Linked DNA regions of Homo sapiens: region 2 is linked to region 1. The links come from fine-mapping of genetic effects on gene expression. A gene starts in region 1. The other region holds a variant in brackets. All regions are shown on one strand. Distances are from middle to middle.

Region 1 (5,378 bases):
GGCCTGGAGTCTGAAGAGGTATGCATAGTTCACCTTTTTGTTTGTTTTTAAAGACTACATGTTCATCTGATTTGATGCCAAGGTAGTATTTGGGTAAGCCAGAACAAATCCCCATTTAAAACTCTCGCCCTTCTTTAAAAGTTTCAAGAAATTTTCTCTTCAAGACTAACCTCATGTGGGTGGTGTTGGGGACCACCTACAGGGCGTCGTTTGAGAGGTGCTGAAAGATGACCCCTCGCTTCAGTGTACCTTTTCTCTGTCCTCCATTAGAACCTAAAATTCTACCATCACGATTCTACTTGGCTGGATTTTCAATTGCCAGATTTGCTACAAGAGTAACCCACTGGATCTAGTCTGCCTTCCTGGGACTGAGCTGGTTTGACTGCATTTTCTCAGGGATGGGAAGGTTTGAAGCTTTTAAGACCATTGACCATACAGGGGTGTGGAGGGGCCATGAGATGGGTAGACTACAACCCAGAGGGGCCCAATCTCCTTTTCTGACATCAATATTTTGTCTTGGGTTGGCTCTGAGATCAGCTGGTGTGTACAATATGGGTATATGTGTAACCATGTGCAGATTTAAATAGTAAAGATACATGGGTGTACTTATGATATGTACATGATTTTATAAAATGAAAAGAAACACAGGCCCCGGGATTAGACCAACCTGAGTTCAGATCACAAGGTTTGTAACCCTGGGAAAGTTACAGTATCTTACGGGGTGGTTGGGAGAATTCAATGAGATAATATGTTTAAAATCTTAGCATTGGTCAGTGGCATACAGCAAGTGCTCCATAGGTGTTACTATTATTAAGATTATGTATGTGTGCACCCTTACACAAGTGTATGCATGCATCTGCATATAGGTGCAGATATGAGTATGTAAGGGAGATAGAGTGTGTTTAAGAACAAGAGAAAGAATAATGAAAAATATCGCCAATCTCTGCAACAGGAGTTCCAGCATAGGAGTGGCCCTTTTTACGGAGTGAGACCACTGCAGGGCACAAAGGAAACTGACTCAGCTTTACTAAGTGGGAAACAGAGTAAGAGGACAGTAAACCTCAAGAGCTTCCTTAGTGGCACAGACTCAAGAGTAGAAATTAATAGAAGGAGACAGGCAAGCAGAATGGGATGTGATGTTATCAAAGCTCAAAAGTGACGTTAAAAAAGTAATAGTTGAAAGTGGTCTCTGAAATTGTCCTACATCAAAATTAGGCCTCCGTGCTCAGAAAATAGATAACCATCGGCTCCATCCTAAAGTTCTGGGCCACATGCATGTTTGATGTTTTGGAACTAACATGAAAGAACGTGGAAAAATATGTAAACAATGTTTTCAGACCTCCTGGTCTCCTCTTAAGATTTTCCCATTGAGCTGTGTCTGAACACTCTCTGCATAATAAATAATTGTCATCCTTACGTCTAGAGAGAAGATATAGTAATAACAATAATTTTAAAAAGAACACCCAGTTTCTTTCTCTTTTTTTTTTTTTTTTTTTTTGAGACGGAGTCTTAGTCGCCCAGGCTGGAGTGCAATGGCACAATCTCAGCTCACTGCAGCCTCCACCTCCCAGGTTCAAGTGATTCTTGTGCTTCAGCCTCCCAAGCACTCCCAGCCAACACACCCAGCTAATTTTTGCATTTTTAGTAGAGATCGGGCTTCACCATGTTGGCCAGGCTGGTCTCAAACTCCTGACCTCAAGCAATCCACCCACACCTCAGCCTTCCAAAGTGCTGGGATTACAGGCATGAGTCACCGCGCCTGGCCTCAAACACCTAGTTTCTAGTCCCAATTCTGCCCCTAACTCACTGGACAACTTCAAAGAATCCCTTGATCTTTCTGGGCACAGCTGCCTCATCTGTAAGAGAAAGTGAGTAGCCAGTTTTGTCCATTATCTTTTGACCTCTTGCCCTCTTAGGGGAGGCTTAGCTCCCTTGAACCACCTCTTCACCTCTTTTTTTTTTTTTTTTTTTTTGTCGCCCTGGCTGGAGTGCAGTGGCACGATCTCAGCTCACTCCAGCCTCCGCCTCCCAGGTTCAAGCGATTCTCCTGCCTCAGCCTCCTGAGTAGCTGGGACTTCAGGTGCGCACCACCATGCCCAGCTAATTTTTGTATTTTTAGTAGAAATGAGGTTTCACCATGTTGGTCAGGATGGTCTTGATCTCCTGACCTTGTGATCTGCCCACGTCGGCCTCCCAAAGTGTTGGGATTACAGGCATGAGCCACTGCGCCTGGCCAGCCTCTTAAAGTTATATCACTCCATGACATTGTTAAGAGCACAGCCCACTTGCCTTCTGCTAGCTGTGACTCCCGAGATGAGTTATTTATCCTCTCTGTGTCTCAAGTTCCCTCATCTGCAAGATGAAAGTAAAGAATAGTTTAGTGTCTCCTTGGGTTGTTAAGGGGTTAAAGGGCTAACACAGGTAAGGTATTTAGAACAGTGGTTGACACAGATAAGGACTACCCTGGCATTAAGATTGTTATTATTCACTTAATCGGATACCTTTGTAATTTTACATGAAATGTATTATCGATAAATCAAAAAATAGAAATATAGGCATAATCTGAGGATATGAAAAGACTACAGTGGATAACAGGCAGGAGGAGAGCTTGGAGGCCACTGCTTTTCCTTTTTTGAAAAAGCTTCTCTGTGCTTTGATTTTTCACGTATGTGTATATACGTGACACTAGTTTTTTAATTTAAACAGATTGAGCAAAAAGATCACTAAAGTCCCTCTTATCTCTAAATTCAGAGATTGACTATGATTTTCAAAGAGCAATATTTTCTAGGTGTCCGACTTATCCTTGTTTTCATAGCTTGACCATTTTTACTTTTGACCTTCCCAGGAAATCCTTATGAAGATTTAAAATAAACACAATCACTTTGGTATGTTTATAATGGAGCAGGTTCTGACTCCTTGGATACTACAGAAAACGGGAAAGGTGAAAATATGAACTTTGTAAATACTTGGCCTTAGGGACTGGCTTATATTTTACCTCTTACAATCTTTTCCCAGAAGCAATTCAGTAAACTGAAGGAAAGATCATAAAGTTAACAACTGCAACAACAAAAGCGTGGTAAGTAGGCAGCGCCCTGGCAGTGAAAGCGTTAACAGGGCTGGGTAAGGCGATCCCTTGAAATGAGTAAGACTGAGTGGTTAAAGTTTTCAAAGCGGTTGGCAGCAGCGGCGCTTGGAGGAAAGGAAGCCGGTTGGAGGGCGCAGCGCACCCCTGCTGCGCGGAGGAGGGGGCTGAGCTGAACTCAGCAGAAGTTACATGCACAAGGTTAGTGGCCCCCACACGCCTCCCCAGCCCGCTGCCGCGCTGACATCTTTGGAGAGGAGGCTTAGGAAGGCGAGGCGCCATCGCTCATTCTCGGTCGTGTCTGTCCTGCTTACTAGTCGCTAGTGGGGCCACTGGCCTTCTCGCCAAACCTCTGGGCTCGGTGCTTACCGAAGCCCTGGCACTTGTGAGGGACAGCTGACTTCTTCCAGACTTTTCTAAACTGGAGGCTTCTTTTCATACATCCAAAAGGAAACTTGTTTCTGGAACAAGTACTGTTTTCAGAGTACACACACACACGACCCCTACCTGTATATGCTGCCCCAGTACGGTTTTTACAGGTCGTGACCACAATCCAGAATTCCTATCTGCTTCATTTGAAATTGAGAACAATGTCAAAGTAACTAAACAGGCTGCACTACTTTACCTTGTGGGAGGAACATTGTCTCTGAGCCTAAGGTAATCGGGATGAGGAGAGAAAAAAAAAAAAAGATGAAAAAAGAAAAGAAACAAAGCTTCCAAGCACCCTGACCTGTGGTTAAGGCAAAACAATTTTTGGAAATGGGTTTCTAGTGGAAATTTTTCTTGTACATTGCTAGAATCATGTGGGAAGGTATATTGTGAAGGAAATAATTCTACATCTGCATGAGATTCAGATAAACTTACCCACCTAAACTAATCTGCATGTGGTGCAGATAATAGATACATTTAGATTTAGGGGAAGGAGGAGGAGGAGATAGCTTCACAGAAATTGCGTTCGGAGGGGGCTTTGTTGTAAGAATTGAGACTGTCCAGGAGCTTTCCCCGGGCAGGGGGTAAAGGACCTCTTCCCGCCCTGGCTGGTAGAGAGGGGTTGGGGGGCCACTTCAGCAGGCCAGTTTATCTCCCTGCTTTCCTGTCCACATAGGCAATAAGCAGTCAGTCTTGTGCTGAATGTTCCCTCTGATCCTCACAGCAAGCACGAGTTGAGTCTTATACCTGCTAGCATTGAATCAGAATGAGTCATTTGAAACTTGGGTGCCGGAACAAAGTACTTGCAAACTGCCTTATGAGACACTGCCTCAATGTAGGTGGGATATACCTCTCGGAGCAGTCACATTTTTTTTTCTCTCCTCTCCCTCCTTCAAGCAGGCAAAAATTCTGACGTTCTCAAGAGACCAGCTCTGCCCCCGTGGCTCAACTGACCCTACCATGTGGACGCTGCTCCTCCAGGTGGGAACTGGAGTTTTGAAATAAAATGGATGATTTGACGTTACTTGATCTTCTGGAGTGCCCTGTGTGCTTTGAGAAGCTCGATGTCACAGCCAAAGTCCTCCCTTGCCAGCACACCTTCTGCAAACCATGTCTACAGAGGGTTTTCAAGGCCCACAAAGAGCTGCGGTGCCCCGAATGCAGGACGCCTGTGTTTTCCAACATTGAGGCGCTGCCGGCCAACCTGCTGCTCGTGCGCCTTCTGGATGGAGTGCGCTCAGGGCAGAGCTCCGGGAGAGGGGGCTCCTTCCGCAGGCCTGGCACGATGACCTTGCAGGATGGCAGGAAAAGCAGGACCAACCCCAGACGTCTGCAGGCCAGTCCTTTCCGGCTAGTGCCTAATGTCAGAATCCACATGGATGGGGTAAGAGAGATCTTATTTGCTAATATCATGTCCACATAGAGGTTGGATTTGTGTATACAAGGAGCTAGAGATTATCTTCTTTTAGTTACATTCCAGAGTGCTGCTGTTGATTTCCCAGTGATAAGTTTCTGTGGGCAGTGATCATTTTACTCAAATACAATGAAAACCTGAGCCTATCTAATCCATCTAAGAATTCTCTTTAGAACTATTAAAGCTTCCTAGGTTCTCCTTTCCTCTAGTCCAGAAAGTAGTAGAACAAGGAAAGCCTTTTAGATTATATTTTTGGTGTTTCACTTCTGCTGTTCTGAGGCCAAACTAGTGCCTGGGAAATGCACGGAGGGTGGGGAGAAACAAAAGAGAGAAAACAAATCCAACTGCTTGTTGCTTTTGAGATCTCTCAGAAATTTCCAAATGTCAGGTTTTGTTTGAATTTTACCCAAATCCATCTTCCCACCCCTAGTCATAAAGTGCTATTATGGCAAT
Region 2 (5,378 bases), 58 kb before region 1:
TCCCACCTTCCCCAGGGAGAGTGCCATGGGACTTTCGGACCTACCGCCATTCAGATGCTTCTCACTTTCCCTTGCCCTTCCTATTTTTCCCTCCATTCAACTGTGAACATCTTGCAGTCAGAAGTTGTCCTTACTATCTGTCTATTCCCAGTGTTTATCAAAGTGCCCAGTACATAATAGAACTCAGTAATTGTTAAATGAATGACTTCAAGTGAGAGAAACCAAATACACAAAGCTTTTCAAAAAGGAATTGAGCATATTTTGTATAGAATAGTGAAGAGGTGGCTGGGCGCGGTGGCTCACGCCTGTAATCCCAGCACTTTGGAAGGGCCGAGGCAGGTGGATCACGAGGTCAAGAGATTAAGACCATCCTGGCCAACATAGTGAAACCTCATCTCTACCAAAAATACAAAAATTAGCAGGGTGTGGTGGCAGGCACTTATAGTCCCAGCTACTCGGGAGGCTAGAGCAGGAGAATCACTTGAAGCCAGGAGGCAGAGGTTGCAGTGAGCCAGGATTGCACCACTGCACTCCAGCCTGGTGACAGAGCGAGACTCCATCAAAAAAAAATAAATAAAGAATAGTGAAGAGGTAGGATCAGAAGATTTTTTTTTTAATCTACCTTTCTACTAAGGAGAGGTGTCACAGTTGTAAATTCCCTGTGTAACTGGTACAGAAATAGGTGGGAGAGAAGAACTAGGGAAACAATGTTTAAAGAAAAAGAAAGATACACTTTTCATAACATTGTAACTCCCCCAGGATGCAGAGTTGTCTGGGACACACCATCAATGAATCACAGGAGACTGAGACCTTGAACTCTCAGCCCTCATGGCAGCCAGGTGTCCCCCAGGACTACATTAGCCTTATTCATTTACTTCACTGTATAGAACAATATCAAGCTGGGCATGGTGGCCCACATCTGTAATCCCAGCTACTCAGGAGGCTGAGGCAGGAGGGTTGCTTGAGCCAAAGAGTTTGAGACCAGCCTGGGCAACAAAATGAGACTTTGTCTCTACAAAAAGTTTTTTAAAAATTATCTGGGCATGGTGGTGCTTGTCTGTAGTCCCAGCTACTCAGGAGGCTGAGGCAAGAGGATTGCTTGAGCCCAGGAGTTTGAGGCTAAAGCCAGCTACAATTATGCCACTGCACTCCAGCCTGGTTGACAAAGTGAGACCCTATCTCTTAAAAAATTGTATGTGTGTGTGTGTATATATATATATATATATATATATACACACACACACACATACCCACACACACAAACACACACATATAAATGTAACAATTATTATTTTCCTTTTTTTTTTTTTGAGACAGGGTCTTGCTCTGTCGCCCAGGTTGGAGTGCAGGGGTGCAACCTTAGCTCACTGCAACCTCTGCCTCCTGGGCTCAAGCAATCCTCCCTCCTCAGCCTCCTGAGTAGCTGAGACCAAGGCATGCAACAATTATTATTTTCTATGTGTGCCATGCCATGAAAAAGATTGGGAACTCCTAACTAGAAGAATATTTTCTTCTATCTCTCCCAGGAAACAAATATTAATAAATAACCAATAGCCTATCTTCATCTAGAAAAACCAGTGAGCTGACTTCCACAACTACTTGTCAAGTAAACATTTTCAATTGCCCCAAAATGAATGTCAGTAACAACAACAAAAACAAAGCTGGAGGTGAGTTTTCCAAGTAACATTTCTTCAACACTTTTTTATGCCATTTCCCATGTTCACAGACAGATTTTCAGTGAGCCAACCTAAAATCATGGGAAGTTTTGAAACAACCATGTTCATCTGAAAATTTTCAGACGTTGGTGTTTCCAGAATAGTCACAAATACACTTCAAGAAGAAGAACAAATTGATAAATCGAAAGCAGTTTTGGCAGTATTATCAAAAGCCTTAAAAATATTTATATCCTTGAAACCTCCTAAGAAAGAAAATACTGTAGCTCCATATATCCAAAGAAATCATGGCAAAATGCTAGTATCAGTTGACTCTGGCAACTGGGTGGAGGATTTTGAGTGTTTTTTTTTCTTTCCCAGTTTAATCATATTTTACTTGTCTGTGATAAGTTTGTCTTACTTTGATAAGCAAGAATAAAATAAATGAAAAAAATCCATTGCTTTCTACCCAATTATTTCTCTTCAGAAAATCATTTTAAAGAAAGAAAGATATTTATTTAAAGATACTCCCCTAAATATTATTCATACTGGGAAAAAAATTGAAAACAACTTAAATGTTCAACAATAGCAATGACACAATATGAAAAATTATGTAGACATTTTTAAAAGGTTAACAAAAAAAAGGAGAGGAGACACTTGTCCTTAGTAGAAAGGTCGATTAAAAAAAAAATCTTCTGATACTACCTCTTCACTATTCTTTTTTTTTTTTTTCAGACAGAGTCTCACCCTGTTGCCAGGCTGGAATGCAGTGGTGCAATCTTGGCTCACTGCAACCTCTGCCTCCCAGGTTAAAGTGATTCTCCTGCCTCATATGGAAATAATAAGAAAATAATATGGAAACAGATTTATGATACAAATTAAGTAGGAAAAGATATAACAGATTTTATGTTCTGTGACATAGAATTTATATTATAAAACTGTATAGAAGAGATCTGTTCCAAGATGGCCGAATAGGAACAGCTCCAGTCTGCAGCTCCCAAAGTGATCAACGCAGAAGACATGTGATTTCTGCATTTCAAACTGAGGTACCTGGTTCATCTCATTGAGACTGGTTGGACAGTGGGTGCAGCCCATGGAGGGTGAGCCAAAGCAGGGCGGGGCATTCCCAGTAGGGGC[C/T]GACAGACACCTCATATAGGTGGGTGCCCCTCTGGGATGAAGCTTCCAGAGGAAGGATGAGGCAGCAATATTTGCTGTTCTGCAATCTTTGCTGTTCTGCAGCATCTGCTGGTGATACCCAGGCAAACAGGGTCTGGAGTGGACCTCCAGCAAACTCCAACAGACCTGCAGCTGAGAGACCTGACTGTTAGAAGGAAAACTAACAAACAGAAAGAAATAGCACCAACATCAACAAAAAGGACATCTACACCAAAACCCCATCTGTAGGTCACGAACATCAAAGACCAAAGGTAGATAAAACCACAAAGATGGGGAGAAACCAGAGCAGAAAAGCTGAAAATTCTAAAAACCACAGTGCTCTTCTCCTCCAAAGGATCACACCTTCTCACCAGCAACGGATCAAAGCTGGATGGAGAATGACTTTGATGAGTTGACAGAAGTAGGCTTCAGAAGGCTGGTAATAACAAACTTCTCCGAGCTAAAGGAACATGCTCAAACCCATTGCAAGGAAGATAAAAACCTTGAAAAAAGGTTAGACGAATGGTTAACTAGAATAAACAGTGTAGAGAAGACCTTAAATGACCTGATGGAGCTGAAAACCATGGCATGAGAACTTCATGACACATGCACAAGCTTCAATACTTGATTCAATCAAGTGGAGGAAAGGGTATCAGTGATTGAAGATCAAATTAATGAAATGAAGTGACAAGACAAGGTTAGAGAAAAAAGAGTAGAAAGAAATGAACAAAGCCTCCGAGAAATATGGGACTATGTGAAAAGACCAAATCGACATTTGATAGGTGTACCTGAAATTGATGGGGAGAATAGAACCAAGTTGGAAAACACTCTGCAGGATATCATCCAGGAGAACTTCCCCAACCTAGCAAGGCAGGCCAACATTCAAATTCAGGAAATACAGAGAATAACACAAAGATACTCCTCGAGAAGAGCAACCTCAAAACACATAATTGTCAGATACACCAAGGCAGAAATGAAGGAAAGAATGGTAAGGGCAGCCAGACAGAAAGGTCAGGTTACCCATAAAGGGAAGCCCATCAGACAAACAGTGGATCTCTTGGCAGAAACCCTACAAGCCAGAAGAGAGTGGGGGCCAATATTCAACATTCTTAAAGAAAATTTTCAACCCAGAATTTCATATCCAGCCAAACTAAGCTTCAAAAGTGAAGGAGAAATAAAATCTTTACAGACAAGCAAATGCTGAGAGATTTTGTCACTACCAAGCCTGCCTTACAAGAACTCCAGAAGGAAGCACTAAACATGGAAAGAAATAACCAGTACCAGCCCCTGCAAAAACATGCCAAATTGTAAAGACCATCAATGCTATGAAGAAACTGCATCAATTAACAGGCAAAATAGCCAGCTAACATCATAATGACAGGATCAAATTCACACAAAACAATATCAACCTTAAATGTAAATAGGCTAAATGCTCAAATTAAAAGACACAGACTGGCAAATTGGATAAAGAGTCAAGACCCATCAGTGTGCTGTATTCAGGAGACCCATCTCACGTGCAGAGACACACATAGGCTCAAAATAAAGGGATGGAGGAAGATCTACCAAGCAAATGCACAGCAAAAAAAAAAAAAAAAGCAGGGGTTGTAATCCTAGTCTCTGATAAAATAGACTTTAAACCTACAAAGATCAAAAGAGACAAAGAAGGCCATTACATAATGGTAAAGGGATCAATTCAACAAGAAGAGCTAACTATCCTAAATATATATGCACCCAATACAGGAACAACCAGATTGATAAAGCAAGTCCTTAGAGACGGACAAAGAGACTTAGATTCCCACACAATAATAATGGGAGATTTTAACACCCCACTGTCAATATTAGACAGATTAATGAGACAGAAGGTTAACAAGGATATCCAGGACTTGAACTCAGCTCTGCACCAAGCGGGCCTAATAGACATCTACAGAACTCTCTACCCCAAATCAACAGAATATACATTCTTCTCAGCACCACATTGCACTTATTCTAAAATTGACCACATAACTAAAGCACTCCTCAGCAAACATAAAAGAACAGAAATCACAAACTGTCTCTCAGATCACAGTGCAATCAAATTTGAACTCAGGATTAAGAAACTCACTCAAAACCGCACAACTACATGGAAACTGAACAACCTGCTCCTGAACAACTACTGGGTAAATAACGAAATGAAGGCAGAAATAAAGATGTTCTTTGAAATCAATGAGAGCAAAGACACAACGTACCAGAATCTCTGGGACACATTTAAAGCAGTGTGTAGAGGGAAATTTATAGCACTAAATGCCCACAAGAGAAAGCAGGAAAGATCTAAAATCAACACCCTAACATCACAATTGAAAGAACTAGAGAAGAAAGAGCAAACAAATTCAAAAGCTACCAGAAGGCAAGAAATAACTAAGATCAGAGCAGAACTGAGAGAGATAGAGACACAAAAAAAACCCTTCAAAAAATCAATGAATCCAGGAGCTGTTTTTTCGAAAAGATCAACAAAATTGATAGACCGCTAGCAAGACTAATAAAGAAGAAAAGAGAGAAGAATCAAATAGATGCAATAAAAAATGATAAAAGGGA

Alleles and levels. Alleles are on the strand shown, and positions count from the first base shown. SD is a standard deviation of normalised expression in the study named.
As copies of T replace C in region 2, the expression in subcutaneous fat of the gene that starts at base 3,167 in region 1 goes down (large effect, 1.3 SD a copy in FUSION).

Evidence for each region.
Region 2: its variant is fine-mapped to the expression of SH3RF2 in subcutaneous fat (FUSION, PIP 0.95).

Annotation. Positions count from the first base shown.
Region 1 is chr5:145,933,412-145,938,789 of GRCh38, forward strand. It overlaps SH3RF2 (SH3 domain containing ring finger 2), which reads left to right and starts at 3,167. Exons shown (of 10, transcript NM_152550.4): 1 at 3,167-3,283; 2 at 4,412-4,895. The coding sequence starts at 4,518. LOC107986458 (a long non-coding RNA gene) reads right to left here. Exons shown (of 4, transcript XR_001742913.2): 4 at 2,290-2,352. RefSeq lists an enhancer at 2,905-3,482.
Region 2 is chr5:145,874,985-145,880,362 of GRCh38, forward strand. It overlaps a transcript of GRXCR2 not described here. Among named protein-coding and RNA genes, the nearest start is that of GRXCR2, 4.7 kb to the left of the region's middle. The variant C/T (reference allele first, on the strand shown) is at 2,790.